Linked DNA regions of Homo sapiens: region 2 is linked to region 1. The links come from fine-mapping of genetic effects on gene expression. Tissue or cell type: whole blood. Region 1 holds a variant in brackets; the other region holds the start of a gene. All regions are shown on one strand. Distances are from middle to middle.

What was found. PIP is the estimated chance that this variant, and not a neighbour inherited with it, causes the effect.
Region 2: it holds the start of PLAU, and the variant in region 1 is fine-mapped to the expression of PLAU in whole blood (INTERVAL, PIP above 0.99).

The regions. Positions count from the first base shown.
Region 1 is chr10:74,391,355-74,399,615 of GRCh38, reverse strand. It overlaps ADK (adenosine kinase), which reads right to left. Exons shown (of 11, transcript NM_006721.4): 5 at 5,303-5,475; 6 at 1,037-1,145. Among named protein-coding and RNA genes, the nearest start is that of ADK-AS1, 130 kb to the left of the region's middle. The variant G/T (reference allele first, on the strand shown) is at 4,511.
Region 2 is chr10:73,906,743-73,914,742 of GRCh38, reverse strand. It overlaps PLAU (plasminogen activator, urokinase), which reads right to left and starts at 3,611. Exons shown (of 11, transcript NM_002658.6): 1 at 3,525-3,611; 2 at 3,131-3,218; 3 at 2,675-2,702; 4 at 2,421-2,528; 5 at 1,645-1,819; 6 at 1,362-1,453; 7 at 985-1,204; 8 at 615-763. The coding sequence starts at 3,187. It overlaps C10orf55 (chromosome 10 putative open reading frame 55), which reads left to right. Exons shown (of 5, transcript NR_160938.1): 3 at 1,668-1,700; 4 at 2,459-2,543; 5 at 2,648-4,774. RefSeq lists enhancers at 349-902, 513-1,712, 5,331-5,380, 4,630-5,580, 4,936-6,135 and a silencer at 3,065-3,664.

The sequences.
Region 1 (8,261 bases):
GGGTAAAATATTTAATTCTTGAAATGTTTTTCTCACATACTGGCAGAAAAGATAGCATAACTTTCCATTATATAATCTTCTCAATGTAAGCATTTATTTGACAGTTATAAAGGGATAGGATTTGGTATACAGAGGAATCAATAACAATGTTGTAAAGCCTAGAACAGTGCACACAAACATGCTGTAGGAGACATTAACATTAGACTGAAAGAAATAATTATATTTTCAATAAACATGTTCCTCCTAGTAGGGTAATCAATTTTTTACACATCTTACCAGCTATTTCACAGAGCTCAGGTAATGAAATGGCAGCAGCTGTTATACCAAAACCATATATTACATGCATACGAGATGCTTTTTTCATAGGTATCTACTTATTTGTGTAAAGCCACATTTAACACATATTAAATAAAAACAAGGTAATCATGGGGTGATTAATTCAGAATTTTTAGTACCATCCTATTTTAGAAATAAATTCTTAACCAATTATTTTTGTGTCAGAAGACTTAATAATTCAAATTACACCCTGCCCTTGTTCCCAGATTTAAGAGATTTGTCACGATCAATGTTTCTGAAATATTAAATTAAGAGGTGTCATGGTAATTACTATGGAATAAATAGCAATTAAGTTTTTTAAGCAATTCAGCTCAAACTATTTGCAGTGAATATTTATACTACTAATATTTTTCTGCACAATGCAAGTTGCCTACAAATGTAAGATGTAAGTTTGTAGAATTATTTTAAAATATATTTGGAAACTGATTTAATATAGAATTCTGCGCTTGGTTGGCAAGCACCTATGCATAATGTATCCAAAAATAGGTAGACCTGAAGATAAATAATACAAATTATGTTACCCATAGAAAGATAATGATTTCTGTTCTATTTTCACAATAGTGAATCTAACATATGCTTTGAGAGAGATAAATAATTTGCAGGGTAAATAAAAGATAATTATTTTAAAATATATATCAGACAACAACTATAATCCATCATGTAAATATGTACTAGAGATTTGAATTAGGTAAGTACTTACTGCTATATAACAAACTCTTGCTTTTTCTACCAACATCCAGTTTTTCTCCAGATCAAGATGTTTTTCCTTTTTATAACAATTGGCAGCAGCAAGATTAGCTATGAGGGACCTAAAACAACCAAAGAATAAGCAAGTAATATTATAGTCAAACTTAGCATATGTTTCAATAGATAATTACCAATATTTTTTGCAAAGTTTAAAATTTACATTTTAATTAATTCTTCAAAACTAATGTTATTGATTTTTAAATAAATATAAATAATAATTTTGTTTTGAGAACTTTCTGAGGCATCTATGATAATTTTTGTTCTAAACAACACCTGGTATTTTGAGAAAGAAATTGGCATTTAAGTTGCCTTTTGATAGTAAAATAGGACCTACTTTTTACACCTTAATAGTTCAAAATGCAGTTAAGAAATAAGGCTAACTCATTATATAAAAAGAAATCTATGCAACTAAAAACATTTTTTAAGTAGAAAAATATCTTTATAAAAATAAATATCAACATACTATAATTGTCTATTTAATCGAAGCCTTTAAAAGCCAAATATGGAATTAATTTCGTAAAAGACACTTATAAATGTAGACCATATTCGCTAAGAGGAATTAATTTGTAAACCATTACATTCTAAGGGCTGAAATCAATTAGAATTGTTTTCTATAGTTGAAAAGTCCCCTGACTGGTCCAATTTTAGAAATGGAATATCTAAGCAGGATACTGCATTTAAAATCTTGCTGCAGGTTGGGTGCAGTAGCTCAAAGCTGAAATCCCAGCTCTTTCAGAGGCCAAGGTGGGAGGATTGCTTGATGCCAGGAGTTTGAGGTCAGCCTGGGCAACACAGCCAGATCCCATCTCTACAAAATAATTTTAAAAATTAGCTGGGGGTAGTGGTGCACACTTATAGTCCTAGGGACTCAGGAAGCTGAGGTGGGAGGATTGCTTGAGCCCAGGAGTTTGAGGCTGCAATGAGCTATGATCATGCCACTGCACTCCAGCCTAGGCAACAAGGCAAAACCACATCTCTAAAAAATAAATAAATAAATAAATAAAATCCTGCTACAAGTGTCACTTGGCTTGTTTAATTAAAAATAAATACAATAATTATTTACATTATAAATAAAAATACTTTCCTTCCTCATACTGCTCCAGAATTTAAAAAATTACTTGCCAATTTTTCTCTTTTTCTAATTAAATTGTAACAGTTATAGCTTACAAAAAAAATCTTATCATTTCAGACTTTGGTAATATGTTCGATTACACTGTTAAAAAAAAAAACCTCAATTCTCTTCCAAAACGTATTTCCACTCATCCATCTGCCAATTTACTACTAAAGGATACATCTGTTTATGTTCAAGTAAATGAAGGAAAGAAAGAGTAATATGCATCAACATATTCATATACAAAATAACTATATTACAAACTTAAGAAAATTTAGACCTAATTTATAAAAATATTTTAGTAATTATGACTTTAGGAAAATTTTGACAAAATGGCTACCAAATAAAAGCAAACATTTCTGGTACCAGATACTAAACTCTATTCTGATAATAAAACTACTTTTTGATGGGAAACTACAGTTTCTCCAAAAGAAAAATAAAAGTATTCTTTTTTTTTTTTTTCCAGATGAAGTTTCGTTCTTGTTGCCCAGGCTAGAGAAGAGCAATGGCTCCGTCTTGGCTCACTGCAACCTCCGCCTCCGGGTTCAAGCAATTTCCTTGCCTCAGTCTCCCAAGTAGCTGGGATTACAAGTGCCCGCCATGATGCTCGGCTAATTTTTTTGTATTTTTAGTAGAGGTGGAGTTTCACCATGTTGGCCAGGCTGGTCTCAAACTCCTGGCCTCAAATGATCCACCCGCCTCGGCCTCCCAAAGTGCTGGGATTACAGGCATGAGCTGCCATGCCCGACCAGAAAAATATGAGTATTCTTATTATCCCAACGTATTTGATTCTGACTTTGAAGAGGAAGAACCTGGATCAAGAAAGATACTGCATTACCCAAACACTTCAATTTCTGAAATTTTTTGTTTTGTTTTTTGTTTTTTAGACAGGGGCTCACTCTTTTGCCCAGACTGAAGTGCAGTGGGCAGCACGACCCCAGTCCACTGCAGCCTCAACCTCCTGGGCTCAAGCAATCCTTCCACCTCAGCCTCCCAAGCAGCGGGGACCACAGGTACATGCCACCATCCCCAGCTAATTTTTGTATTTTTTGTAGAGATGGAGTTTCGCCATGTTGGCCAGGCTGGCCTTAAACTCCTGAGCTCGAGTGATCAGCCTACTTCGGTCTCCTAAAGTGTTAGGATTACAAGGTGTGACCACCACACCCGGCCAATTTCTGAGTTTTTGATAGTGGCAGCAAAGGTTACTGGACCTATCCAAAACAATTGATCCAACTGTATTAGCTTCCAGAATTTAGATAATGATTTAGATACTGAAGATTTCTCCCCAATTTTTGAGTCCCATATCATCTCAACAATATCACTATAACCATAAAATTAGTATAAAAGTTAAGTTTTTGACATCCAGAAGATCTAATATTATCATAACTGTTCTCTCTCTCTCTTTGGTTTTGAGACAGAATCTTGCTCTGTTGCCCAGGCTGGAGCGCAATAGCACAATCTCGGCTCACTGCAACCTCCACCTCCTAGGTTCAAGCAATTCTCCTACTTTCGTCTCCCGAGTAGCTGGGATTACAGGTGCACACCTGGCTAATTTTTACATTTTTAGTAGAGACGGAGTTTCACCATGTTGGCCAGGCTGGTCTCGAACTCCTGACCTCAGGTGATCCACCTGACTCGGCCTCCCAAAGTGCTGGGATTACAGGCGTGAGCCACTGCACCCAACCATAACTGTTCTTTAGGACAGCAATTTAGCATACTAAAACAATTTAGTAATTTTACTGTAGCCTAAGTGATATCAGAAGAAAATCTGACCTACTTCTCACTAATGGGAAAACTTTGCACCTACAGATTAAGGCTGGTCTTGGGAAAACTAAGGGCAAAGGTCTAAACAAACATATTTCAACATTTTTAGTTGTTTTTTTTTAAAATCCCTGAATCCCATATTTCAATGTTTACTGTAATCTTAAAACCATAAAGTTCTCCTGTATATAAAAAACAAAATTAAAGGAAAGATCTGAAAATGCCTTTCATACCCTAATAATTTTTGAATATTGTATTTTGGTTATTTAGTAAATACTGTGCTTATTGATCCCCAGTCTCTAGAATAGTCCATTCCTTAATATACCTCTGCTGAAGGTCAAGTAGTGAGCAATAAAGTGGGTAAATAGAAGAAATGGAGCAAGGTCGTGGTGGAGAGGGGGAAGAAAATAAAGGAGGATGAAAAGGGAAAAAAAGAAAGGAAGAGAAGATGGGAAAAGAAAGGAGATAGGGAATGGAGGAGGACAGACTACATATTTCCAACTATAAGTAATGCAAAATTTCTAGTGAATCACTATTTAAAAAGAGGTCATCTTT[G/T]ATTATCCCAACAATATAATAGCTAGGGCAGTTATTTTGTTTTTCCCTTGCAAAGGGGAAAAAAGCCTGTGCTGATATGGTAATAACGTTAGCAGTGCATGAATACACTGAAGGAGTATCTCCATGTGGGTACAAAAGAACAACCAACCAATATATGGAGGGGCCTGAGAGAGATATTTCAAGTTCATATTAAGAATACTTTTCTAATAAGTAAGGGTGTATAGAAATATACTTGGTTGTTTTGTTAGTGGTATACTACCCACGACTGAGTTTATTCAATATGAATGAATTACTATTTGCCAGAAATGGTTTAGATGACCATTTAGATGACTAAGTCTTACGAGCCTGAATGTAATGTTGTATTTTATATACATAAAATACACACACACACTCTCTCTCTGTCTCTCTGTCTCTCTCTCTCGTATTCCAACCTCAGGATATGGTGAAAAGAACATTGTTTCTAATTCAAGTTTTGCAACAAATTAGCTACAAGGTGTTGAGCAAGCTACAAGGCATTGAGCAAGCTATCAGCCTTTTCTGATTCTAATTATAAAAAGTAGAGACTGGACTAAATAACCTCAAACTTTTATTCCATTATGCCTCATGAATTCAACTGCATGTTTAACAAAAGTAAATTTAAAAACAATACAGGAAAACTGATATAAGGAATAAGCATTTATCAAACATTAAAAGGAATTATAAAGTCAAAATTCCAAATTCACATTGGAATTCATATTTTACCAGTGTTAAAATAGCCAATTAGTATAGTGGTTCCCTTGGAATTACACTGACCTGTTGTCACCAGTGATGCATGCAGCACAAGTTCCTGTTGGCTGCTCATTCTGCTCGTAGTAATGAGCATCCACATGGGCTTCAGCAGCTTTTCTCTTCAGGATCTCCCCAAATTTATCTATCCCAATGCATCCAAAAAATGTTGCTGCTTTGTGTGGCTGTTGAATCATCCACTGTAAAACAGGAACATAAATAATTTAATGGGGCAAAAAAATGGTACACATAGTTTAATATTCTGCCACAGATAGTGATGTGACAAGAATGCTTTGTGAGAAACTGTAGCTGTTATGAATGGGATTTCAATTCTGTGCTATCACTTACGATTAAAAAAACTTAATATAACAACCATGTAATATCTTATACTGCTTTGGGGAGAGAAATAAAGTACATAAAGTTGTTAAGGACTCAGCAGCTAAAATCATACAGACCTTAAGACAAATGCTGGCCTGATATAGGAAAATAATAGTGGGTCCCAATATAAGAAGTCTAGCATTGTCATAAAAAGAGCAGAATCCATCTTGATTGAAGACTCTCTGGGTTCAAATCTTGCTTCTGCCACTTACTAGCTGCATGAGTTAGAGCATGTTAGAGCATATCTCTTAACATTTCTCATTTCACTCATGTTTAAAGTGGAGATATAATTACAAATACATCTCATAAGGTCGTTGAGGACTAATTGAAATGATGTAAATTAATGTACTTGCATTGCTGAGCATGGTACCCAGCACATAGTCAACAACATATATTAGCTGTGGCTGTTACTATGATTGTCATACTTATTGTAGTAATTCATATATAAATTAAGCTAAAACATGCTCATATCTAAAAAAATTCTTTTAAAAATTCAGAAATAGTGTTACAGTTCTAGTTACAAATATCTCATTTTTTCATTGAAGTAATTATTATAAGCTTTAATGGATTTCTTGTAAGATGCATATGTTTCACAGATTTGAACTTTTTACCTTTTATAATTAGCTCAAATCCCTGAGGGTTCTAATATTCTATAGTGATTCTATAGGTAACACCTGTTTAGTTTCAAAGACTTACAGGTAGCAAAATAACCTACAAATAATCTACATACAAAGTCAAAAGATATCAAAATAGATTTTGATAAAATCTGTTCTCAAATATTTGGAATAGAAAAGAAATACATGCATATTTGAGAGGTAAAAGGATGAGGAGAGGAAAAAGTAACAAAGACAGAACTGTAAGAATGAGACATAGTAACAGCTTAATGACCAGCAATCCCACTTCTACAGACTCATCCACAATATAAAACAACACATATATAAGTATTGAGATGTTATTTGTAATGGCAAAATGTTGGAAATAAACTAGAAGTCCACCTGTAGAAGATCAGTCGATTAAATTATGATATATCCACACAATGGAATACCACACAGCCATTCAAAAATCCCAGCAAAACAACACAAAAAAAGGAAAAGCTCTGTGGAACACTCCTTCTATACAAAGTAATTTCCAGGATATTTTGTTAACTTCAAAAAAAAATCAAGTCTCAAAGGTAAAAAGCTTTGTTTAAAAAATAAAACTTAATAATATATATTATTTTCAAATATGGGGGACAGCTTCAGGACATTGGATTTAGCAATGATTTCATAAATATGGAACAAAAGCACAGGCAACAAAAGCAAAAATAGATAAATGTGATTATATCAAGCTTAACTTCTGCATGGCAAAGGAGGCAATCAACAGAGTGAAAAGGCAACTTATTTCCAAACCATATATCCAATGAAAGGTTAATATCCAGAATATATAACAAACTTCTAAATGAACAATAAAAATACAAATAACATGATCTTAAAATGGGCAAAGGACTTGAATAGACATTTCTCCAAAAATGATATATAAATGGCCAATAAGCACAAGAAAAGATGTTCAACATCAGTAATCATCAGGGAAATCAAAACCACAATGAGATATCACTTCACACTGATCAGGATGGTTACTACCGAAAACACAGAAAACAAAAAATGCTGGCAAAATGTGGAGAAGTGAATGAACCCTTGTGCAGTGTTGGTGGAAATGTAACATGGTACAGCCACTACTAAAATGGTATGGAAGTTCCTGAAAGAAATATTAAAAATTAAATTAACATATAATCAAGCAACCTCACTTCTGGGTATACAGTCAAAAGAATTCAAAGCAGGATCTCAAAGATATATTTGCATGTCCATGTTCACTGCAGCAATATTCATGATAGCCAAGAAGTACAAGCAACCCAGACATCTATCAACAATTAAAGGATAAAGAAACAAAAGAAGGAAATCCTGTCACATGCTACAACATAGATGAACATCAAGAACTTGCTAAGTTATATAAGGTCTGTCACAAAAAAGACACATATTGTATGATTCCATTCATAGGAAGTATCTGAAGTAGTCAAAATCATAGAAACATAAGTAGAATGTTGGTTGCCAAGGACGTCAGGGAGGGAAGTCAGAGAATTAAGAGTTTAATGGGTACAGAGTTTCAGTGTTGCAAGATGAAAAATTTCTAGAGGTTGACTATGTAACAACATGCGTATACTAATTGGTACATTTAAAAATGGTTAAGATGGTAGAGTTAATGTTATGGTTTTTATTACATAAAAGAGAATGTGTGTGTGTGTGTGTGTGTGTGTGTGTGTGTGTGTGTGTGTGTATATTCTTGCCTCGAACTCCTGAATTCAACAGATCCTCCCAGCTCAGTCTTCTGAGTAGTTGGGACTATAGGTGCAAGCCACCTCACTCAACCATATATATTCTTTTAGTATAGATACTATACTATATACATATATTAGAATGTATATATAATTTTGTGTTTGCTAATTTTATAAAAAGAAACACAGAAAGAATAAACTAGAAATGAAAAATGCTTTTCTATGAGAGTGAGTGGGAAAGGAGTAGAGGAATAGGAATAGAAGAGTTCTCTGAATATAGCATTCCATACAAATTTGACT
Region 2 (8,000 bases), 480 kb after region 1:
CACTACTGGTTAGGCGGTCCCCATCTGTCCCCTCCAAGTGCCGAGGAAGTAGCTATGCCTATCCCTAGGTCAGTCATCCAGGGAGGTCTGCTGGTCGCTTATCACCTGGAAACCTCCCCTGCCCCATGCCCCAAGGGCTTTGTTCCAGGTGTTGAAAAAGGCTTGGATGGCCAGAGCCACTGCATACAGCTGTACAGGTCGTTTCTGCAAAAACTCCCAGCTGAGGTAGTTAGGCTGGAATCCATCCCAAGGCTCCATTCTCCAAGTTCTATATCCTAGCACAGACAGAGGCTGCATCCCACAAAGGAAGGTGTGTCTTTTTCTAATTCATATAAACAGGGCCTTCCCAGCCCAAGCCATATACCCACAGGGCTGTTTCCACTCGCAAGAGGCTACTTGTTGGGGAAATTCAGGGTCTCTCCAGAGGAGCACCAGGCCCCTCAGACTTCATGGAACTCTTCCCTGCCACTCCCTTTGTCATGTATATCGAGGCTTCAAGGTCCCTCGCCCCACCCCTGCCCCACCGGGCAGCTTCAACCTCAGCTCCAGTCTCTCCCTGGGTCCCACTCTCCCCAAGCCATTATGGCCACAGTAGTCGCGGGGTTCCCCCTCACCAATGTCGTTGTGGTGAGCAAGCGTGTCAGCGCTGTAGTCCTTGTGTAGGATGAGGTTTTCCACCTCAAACTTCATCTCCCCTTGCGTGTTGGAGTTAAGCCTTGAGCGACCCAGGTAGACGATGTAGTCCTCCTTCTTTGGGTAATCACTGTGGGAGAAGATACCCATCAAACAGCTTAGTCCCATGAAATCTGCCACTTCTTCCTTCCCTCCCTAGAGGCCTCAAAGCACGACTTGTCCCCAAGGCCATGGGCTGCATGGACAGGGGCAGATGAGGGAGAAATGAGGCGGAACACTTTGCTGGGAAGGAGAAAGGGATGTGCTTGGGGTGGGGCAGAAGAGTCGAAGAGGAGAAACCCAGGGCCGTACATGAAGCAGTGTGTGGCGCTGATCACCCAGCAAGGGCTGATGAGGCTGCCTCCACACACGTAGGTGACAGAGCCCCCCCGGTGCCTCCTGTAGATGGCCGCAAACCAGGGCTGGTTCTCGATGGTGGTGAATTCTCCCCCAATAATCTTAAAGCGGGGCCTCAGAGTCTTTTGGCCACACTGAAATTTTAATTCTTCTGGAGGAGAGGAGGGCTTTTTTCCTGGAGGACAAACAGAGGGATGTCTTAGGGAGGCAGGTAGGAGAAAGCATCCCTCTCGGGCACCCCCCACCTCCTCAGTCCTCCTGTGATGGAATAAGGGGACATGTAAGTTTGTCCCCTTCCACCCCACTGTCATCAGCAGGTCAGTGATGCTCACCATCTGCGCAGTCATGCACCATGCACTCTTGGACAAGCAGCTTTAGGCCCACCTGCACATAGCACCAGGGTCGCCTCCGGTTGTCTGGGTTCCTGGCAACACAGAAAGATAGGGGATGTCATTCCAACCCAGAGGGCCTTCCCTGCCTCCTCCCCTCAGGGAAGACTCAACCAGAGGCCGCACTTCTCTTGTGCTATGGCCAGCCCTCTGGGAGAAGGGGATGGTAACAAGGTTTCTGGGAAGCTGTAGGGAGGGCTTTTGGTCCTTGTTGCCCCCACCTCACCTGCAGTAATTATGTTTCCCCAGGCCCAGCTGAAGAGCATCAGATCTGTGGGCATGGTACGTTTGCTGAAGGACAGTGGCAGAGTTCCAGGGCAGGCAGGGCCGGCCCATGGTGTCAGTGCTGGCCTTTCCTCGGTAAAAGTGACCATTCCCCTCATAGCAGGTTTTTGACTTATCTACAAGGGGACAGGAGGATGAGAGAATATGAGAAAGAGAAGAACATTCCAACTAACTTTTATTTTTTTTTTTTGAGATGGAGTCTTGCTCTGTCGCCCAGTTGGAGTGCAGTGGTGTGATCTCAGCTCACTGAGATCTCTGCCTCCCAGGTTCAAGCAATTCTCCTGCCTCAGCCTCCCAAGTAGCTGGGACTACAGGCATCCACTACCATGCCAGGCTGATTTTTGCATTTTTAGTAGAGGCAGGGTTACACCATGTTGTCCAGGCTGGTCTTGAACTCCTGACCTCAAATGATCCACTCACCTTGACCTCTCAAAATGCTGGGATTACAAGCGTGAGCCACCATGCCCGGCTGCCAACGGACATTTTAAAGATGTCGTTTCAGACCTGCCAGAAGACTGGACAGGGTCTCCTTCCAACCCCACCTCACATTTGTGTGGCCACTGTTTCGTGAGCGTGTGTGTGTGTTTATGCTTGTCACATAGGGATGAAGATGTCACCCACCCTACCTCCAGCTCCTAACTCCTGCCTGCTCTTGCCTCCCACCCATCCCTCCCTGTCCCCAAATTTCTCTCCCAGTTGCAGTGGAGATCCCCATACCTATTTCACAGTGCTGCCCTCCGAATTTCTTTGGGCAGTTGCACCAGTGAATGTTGGAGAAGTACTTGTTGGACACACATGTTCCTCCATTTAGACAGTCACAGTTCGCTGGAGAGAACAAAGGTGGGGTAAGCGAGGGGGAGTGGAAGTGGTAAGGGGTGGCGCAGCCCTGCAGCAGAGGGCAGGGAGGGGATGTCCCCTGAAGCCTTCCCAACTTGTCTGTGCAGCCAACTGTTGTAGGGGTGGATACTCACATGGAACTTGATGAAGTTCATTGCTGCCCTGGAAGAGATTCGGGAGGAGGCTTCATCAAAGGTCCCATGCTCCAGGGACTCCAGGGTGAGGGTAAACTGGCCCCAATCCCAAAACCCACTCTTCCCTCTCCCTCTCGCCTCACCCTGTTCGTATCTAGTTCTCAAATGGAAGACCATGGGTTTCCAGCCAGGAGAAATGGATTGACCCAAGCAAGCTTCATCTACCAGATGCCCGCAGGCTGGGGCAGTCCCGGCGGCCTCTTCCTCCCTTGCCAGCCAGTGCCAACCCCCGTGGTTCTCAAGCCTCCGCTGCCACCCTGTCCCATTTCCTGGGGAGAGTCTGGCCCTGCTGTGGATGGAATCCGGAGGACCCCAGCTCCCTGAGCAGCCCCTCCTCTCCCCTGGTGCTGATCAGAGGTCCTTGGGCAGCATCAGTCAAAGCAAGAGCGCACTCACTTTGGAGTCGCTCACGACCAGGACGCAGAGAAGCAGGCGCGCCAGCAGGGCTCTCATGGTGGCGAGGTCGGGGCGCTAGACGGCGGCTCTGCAAAGGAAGGAGAAGTCAGGGCAAGAGGCGGAGGAACGGGAAGGCAGGCCAGGCGGGCGACTGCAGCGCAGGGGAGATGCCCGCGGTGACCAGGCTCCCCAGCTGTCTCTCTCCTCTCTGGGCTCCGGACTCCGGGCAGCCTGGATCGGCACCCGCGGGGGACGCCCGGGACGGGGCGCCTTGACTCCGTGCAGCCGCCGGGGAGCCCAGGGAGCCCGGGCAGCCCAGGGCGGGGGAGGCAGACGCTCGGGAGCTGGGGCCGCCGCGCATCCGGCCCGGGGATCTCAGGACCGCGGCACTCACCGGTGGCTGCGGCAGGAGGGCGCGAGCCGGCGCTGCGGGGACAGGTGGACCCTGGCCCGGGCTCCGGGGCTGCGGTCTCCGCACTGTGCTGCGACCCGCGGCGCCTGCTCTATATCAGGGCCCGCCCCGGCGCCGCCCCTCCCTCTCCCGCCCGGCTCCCTCCCCTGTCTTGCAGCGCTCAGCGACCCGGACCCCGCGTGCTTCCGCAACGCTCACAAAGATTTGGGGGAAGCGCGATCTCCAGCGGAGGGGACCCAACAGCGTCTGGACTGAGGAATCGAGAGGCTTGTAAATTCTCCGTGCTTCCTCCCATGCACCTGGCCGGGGGCCTGCCCCAGTGCAAGGAGTCCCCGAATTGCAGAGAGGAGAGAAGGCGCACAGGAGACTCTCTACCTCGCCCAGCTCTGAAGCCTCCTGGGGTCCTCTAATCAGTTCTTCTGCAACTTCTCCCCGCTGGGCCCCAACTTGCCTAAGACTGCCTCAGACCCCCTTGCCCGCAGCTGATGGAGCTGTGAAGTCTTCATCAACGCGACAAATGTACGAGACATACTCTCCCAGAAGCACAGACAGAAAAACCCCTGCCTGTAGGGGCTCCCTCTGTGCGTCTGTTCAGTGGCAGTCCCCAGATATCACCAACACAACCAGTGGATGGAACAAAGCCGGGCTTATTGCTTTCGGCAGTAAGGGGGTTTGTTTGATGGTGCTATCAGAGGGGGAAAGGCAAGGCCAGATTACTGAAAATTTGCAGCTTGGTTTAAAGTCCGTTTTTGACAGGGCTTGATAAGGATTGGGTTAGGTGTCGTGATATGATGTTACAGGATTGTGGGAACAAAGTCCTAGGGCATAAACTGTTGGTGCTTCCTATTGAAGTGTTAACGGGTCTTTTGGGAAGTTTCCATAATGAGCAATTCATTTATTTGTGCAGGCAAGAATAAAAGTAAAGACAATGGAAACATGTAGACAGTTCTAACTGTGGAGGTTCTGGAGGGTGTGGAAGTTCTGTTCTCACCTCTGAGTAGAGGAATTGGGAGACTGGAGGACAAAATAAGAGGAAGATTTATTTTTCACTGTTTGTCCTTTTACACTCTTAACATTTTAAAAAGCACATCTCTGTATAGCCCATTCCAAAAAGATAATTATGCATTTTTTAATGCATGTGTATTTAGTGTTTTACTTCATCATAGAGCCTTGTTTATTCTATTCAGATAGAAACAATTGTTTATCAAATAAAATTGTCCTCCAGAAAAACAGACCATGTGTAAATGACTGCATCCACCCTTCCTGCCTGAGGATAAGCAGACATTTGTGTATACACACACACACACACACGCATCTCTGGGCACACTTGGAGGAACATAGCAGGGATTCTGTGATTCTGTCACCCCCATCTCTTTCCCCTAGTGTCAGGAACCAGGGCTTGGGGTCATTTTGAACCCAGTAGGACTCGCTCTCTTAGTGGGAAGGAGGAGGCTGAGTCCCAGCAATCCACTAGCGGCTTTGGGCCCTTTCCCAGCCTAGGCCTGCAGCATTTTCCTGCCTTGCAAATCTGGACCTTGGGTCTGGGTCCACCTGAGAGTGACAGAAGGAAGGCAGGGAGAGTGCCAGGAAGGTAGGAAGGAGGAAGGCTCCTTTGCTCTGCCCCAGCCGAGGGCTCAGGGTGCCAGCTGCCTGCTGGGGAAAGTACAAGTTAGCCTTTCAGCTTTTGGGAGGCAGGTGACCCACTGTCTTCTGGAGAGACTTCTGTGCTTGCTGAGCTGCCAGCCTTCCAGGGGACAGACTGAGTCAGCGATGCTATAGGCTTCAGAGCCAACCTTGCTACTTCCTCTAGAAGACTGTGGTCAGTTTTGTTTGGATTTGAGAACCCATTAATTGTAAATAAACGTGACCAGAACATAAACAGAGATGCTGCAGCCTGAGGACTTACCCCGAAACTCCCAGGTTAGTTATCAGGAAATTCCCAGGGACCGTCATGATTCATGTTGCTCCCCTAGCAGCTCTCATGACTCCAGATTACTTGGCTGGAGGCTGTCATGCTGATTGCTGAGAGCAGATGACTTCATTTCCTCCTGGACAAAGAGGTTTGGAGACCGTTATGAAGCGTGACACCCTTTCTCCCCTTCCGCCCCCTCCTCCCCCGTGCCACCTCTTCACCTAGCACTTCAACTCTTCACAGAACTTCCTTATCCATGCGCTAATCTTTAGCACTCTCTGAAATCTTTGTGCACAGTTCTTTTTTTTTTTTAAAGACAAGGTTTTGCTGGGCTTCTGGGTTCAAGGGGTCCTCCCACCTCATCCTTCCAAAGTGCTGGGATTACAGGCATGAGCCACCACGCCCAGCCATATTTTTTTTTTTTTTTTTTTGAGACGGAGTCTCGGTCTGTCACCCAGGCTGGAGTGCAGTGGCACAATCTCGGCTCACTGCAAGCTCCGCCTCCCGGGTTCACGCCATTCTCCTGCCTCAGCCTACCGACTAGCTGGGACTACAGGCGCCTGCCACCACACCCGGCTAATTTTTTGTATTTTTAGTAGAGATGGGGTTTCACCGTGTTAGCCAGGATGGTCTCGATCTCCTGACCTTGTGATCCGCCCACCTCGGCCTCCCAAAGTGCTGGGATTACAGGCGTGAGCCACCGTGCCCGGCCCCAGCCATATTTTTTATATTGTATTTCTGTCTTGTGCTTCAAGGCACATTAATGTAAACCATTTCTCTTTAAACTCATAACTGCCTTATGATATAGACTGGTATTGTTGTTCCCATTTTGCAGATATGGAAAATGAAGTGGAGAGAAGATACACAGTTGATGAGCAGCAAAGCCAGCACTAAAACCCAGCGTCTTCTGATCCTTGTTCCTATGCGCTATACCTCACTGTCTCCATAAAAGACAGAACGCTGTGAAGGGAGGGGCCAGTGAGCTAAGATGATCCAGCTCAGGGGAGCCCTCCTCCTGACTTTGGAGACCTCCTTCCAGAAAGACTGCTCGGACTATGGACTCTGAGCTCTTAAGTTGCACCCGCTGTAATACAAATTAGTTGTTTGCCTGAATTCCAAGAACTGTCTCTGTGGTCTAGGCTGTCTGAAATTTCTGTTGAGGGTAAGAGAATAAGGAACTGAATGTGTATGATTTCATTCTTTTCCTGACTCCTAGGGTGAAGCCACCAACCCCTGCCTCTGTGTCTCAAGGGTACAGAGCTCCTGAGTCAGATGTGGCAACACAGACTGCTGGAGAAGCCCTTTCCAGGAGATTCTCATAAAAGGGAAGGCAGATGCCAGATGCGCAGGGAGGGGCAGGGTATCCAAACCTGGCCCTGAGACTAAGTCCAGGAAACTCAGCCCCTAAGGACTATTTTCTGACCCAAAAGGAAGTTCCCATGGAGTCATAGGATGCAATTCTGTGTTGTATATGAAGAATGCTCAGCATGGCACTATAGAAAGACCACAGTGCCTAGCCTTCAGTCTGCTACATCAAAGTTGAATGATCTTAGGCAAGTTGCTTAACTCTTTTTTTTTTTTTTTTTTTTTTTGACGTGGAGTCTCGCTCTTGTCACCCAGGCTGGAGTGCAATGGTACAATCTTGGCTCTCTGCACCCTCCACCTTCTGGGTTCAAGCAATTCTCCTGCCTCAGCCTCCCAAGTAGCTGGGATTACAGGTGTCTGCCACCATGCCGGTCTAATTTTATATTTTTAGTAGAGATGGGGTTTCACCATGTTGTCCAGGCTGGTCTTGAACCCCTGACCTCAGGTGATCCACCTGTCCAGCCTGTGCCTCACTCTGCAGATTGGCTGAGATCATGCTTGCATGTAAAAGTATTCATTCATTCCATATTTATCATGGACCTACTGTGTGCTGGGCGCAGTTCTGGATGCTAGAGATAGGAAGAGGAACTGTGTAAACTGTAATTCCTACATCGAGTGCCTGCCTCCCCTTTTTGACTGTGGCTGGATTGACTCAGAAGACCAAGTCAGGCTGGAGTCCATTCCAGGATTCCAGGCCAATGGGGATGCTGTATCCTTGGCCAGCAGTTCCCAGCAATCAGGCAGCTGGACCCACAGCTGCATGTGCTGTTCACTCCCACATTGCCTATGCTTACTCCCTCTCCCTCTTGTCTGTGTCCCTGTGTGGCCTGAAGCGCCTCTTTCCCTCCTACACATGGGGCAGACGGACTCTTCAACAGTTCTGGGAAGGAGGTACGGAATGCTGGTCACATAGCTTCCTTGAGTCTAAGGACCCCTTCTTCCTGAGTGTCTAGTGTGAAGGGTGAAGCCAGCTGGCAACGGCAGGCACTGAAAGCCGCTTCTGGGCATGTAACATGATAGGGGGATTGCTGGAGCTGCAGGCCCCCAGCAGGCTGTGGAAGGGGTGGAGGGAGGCAGCATTCTTGCTTCCTTACTCATGGAAAGCAAAGAGCCCAGGGGCTGAACCCTGAGGTTACACTGTCGTCAGTAGCACCATGAAAGGGGAACTAAAGCTGGTCCCT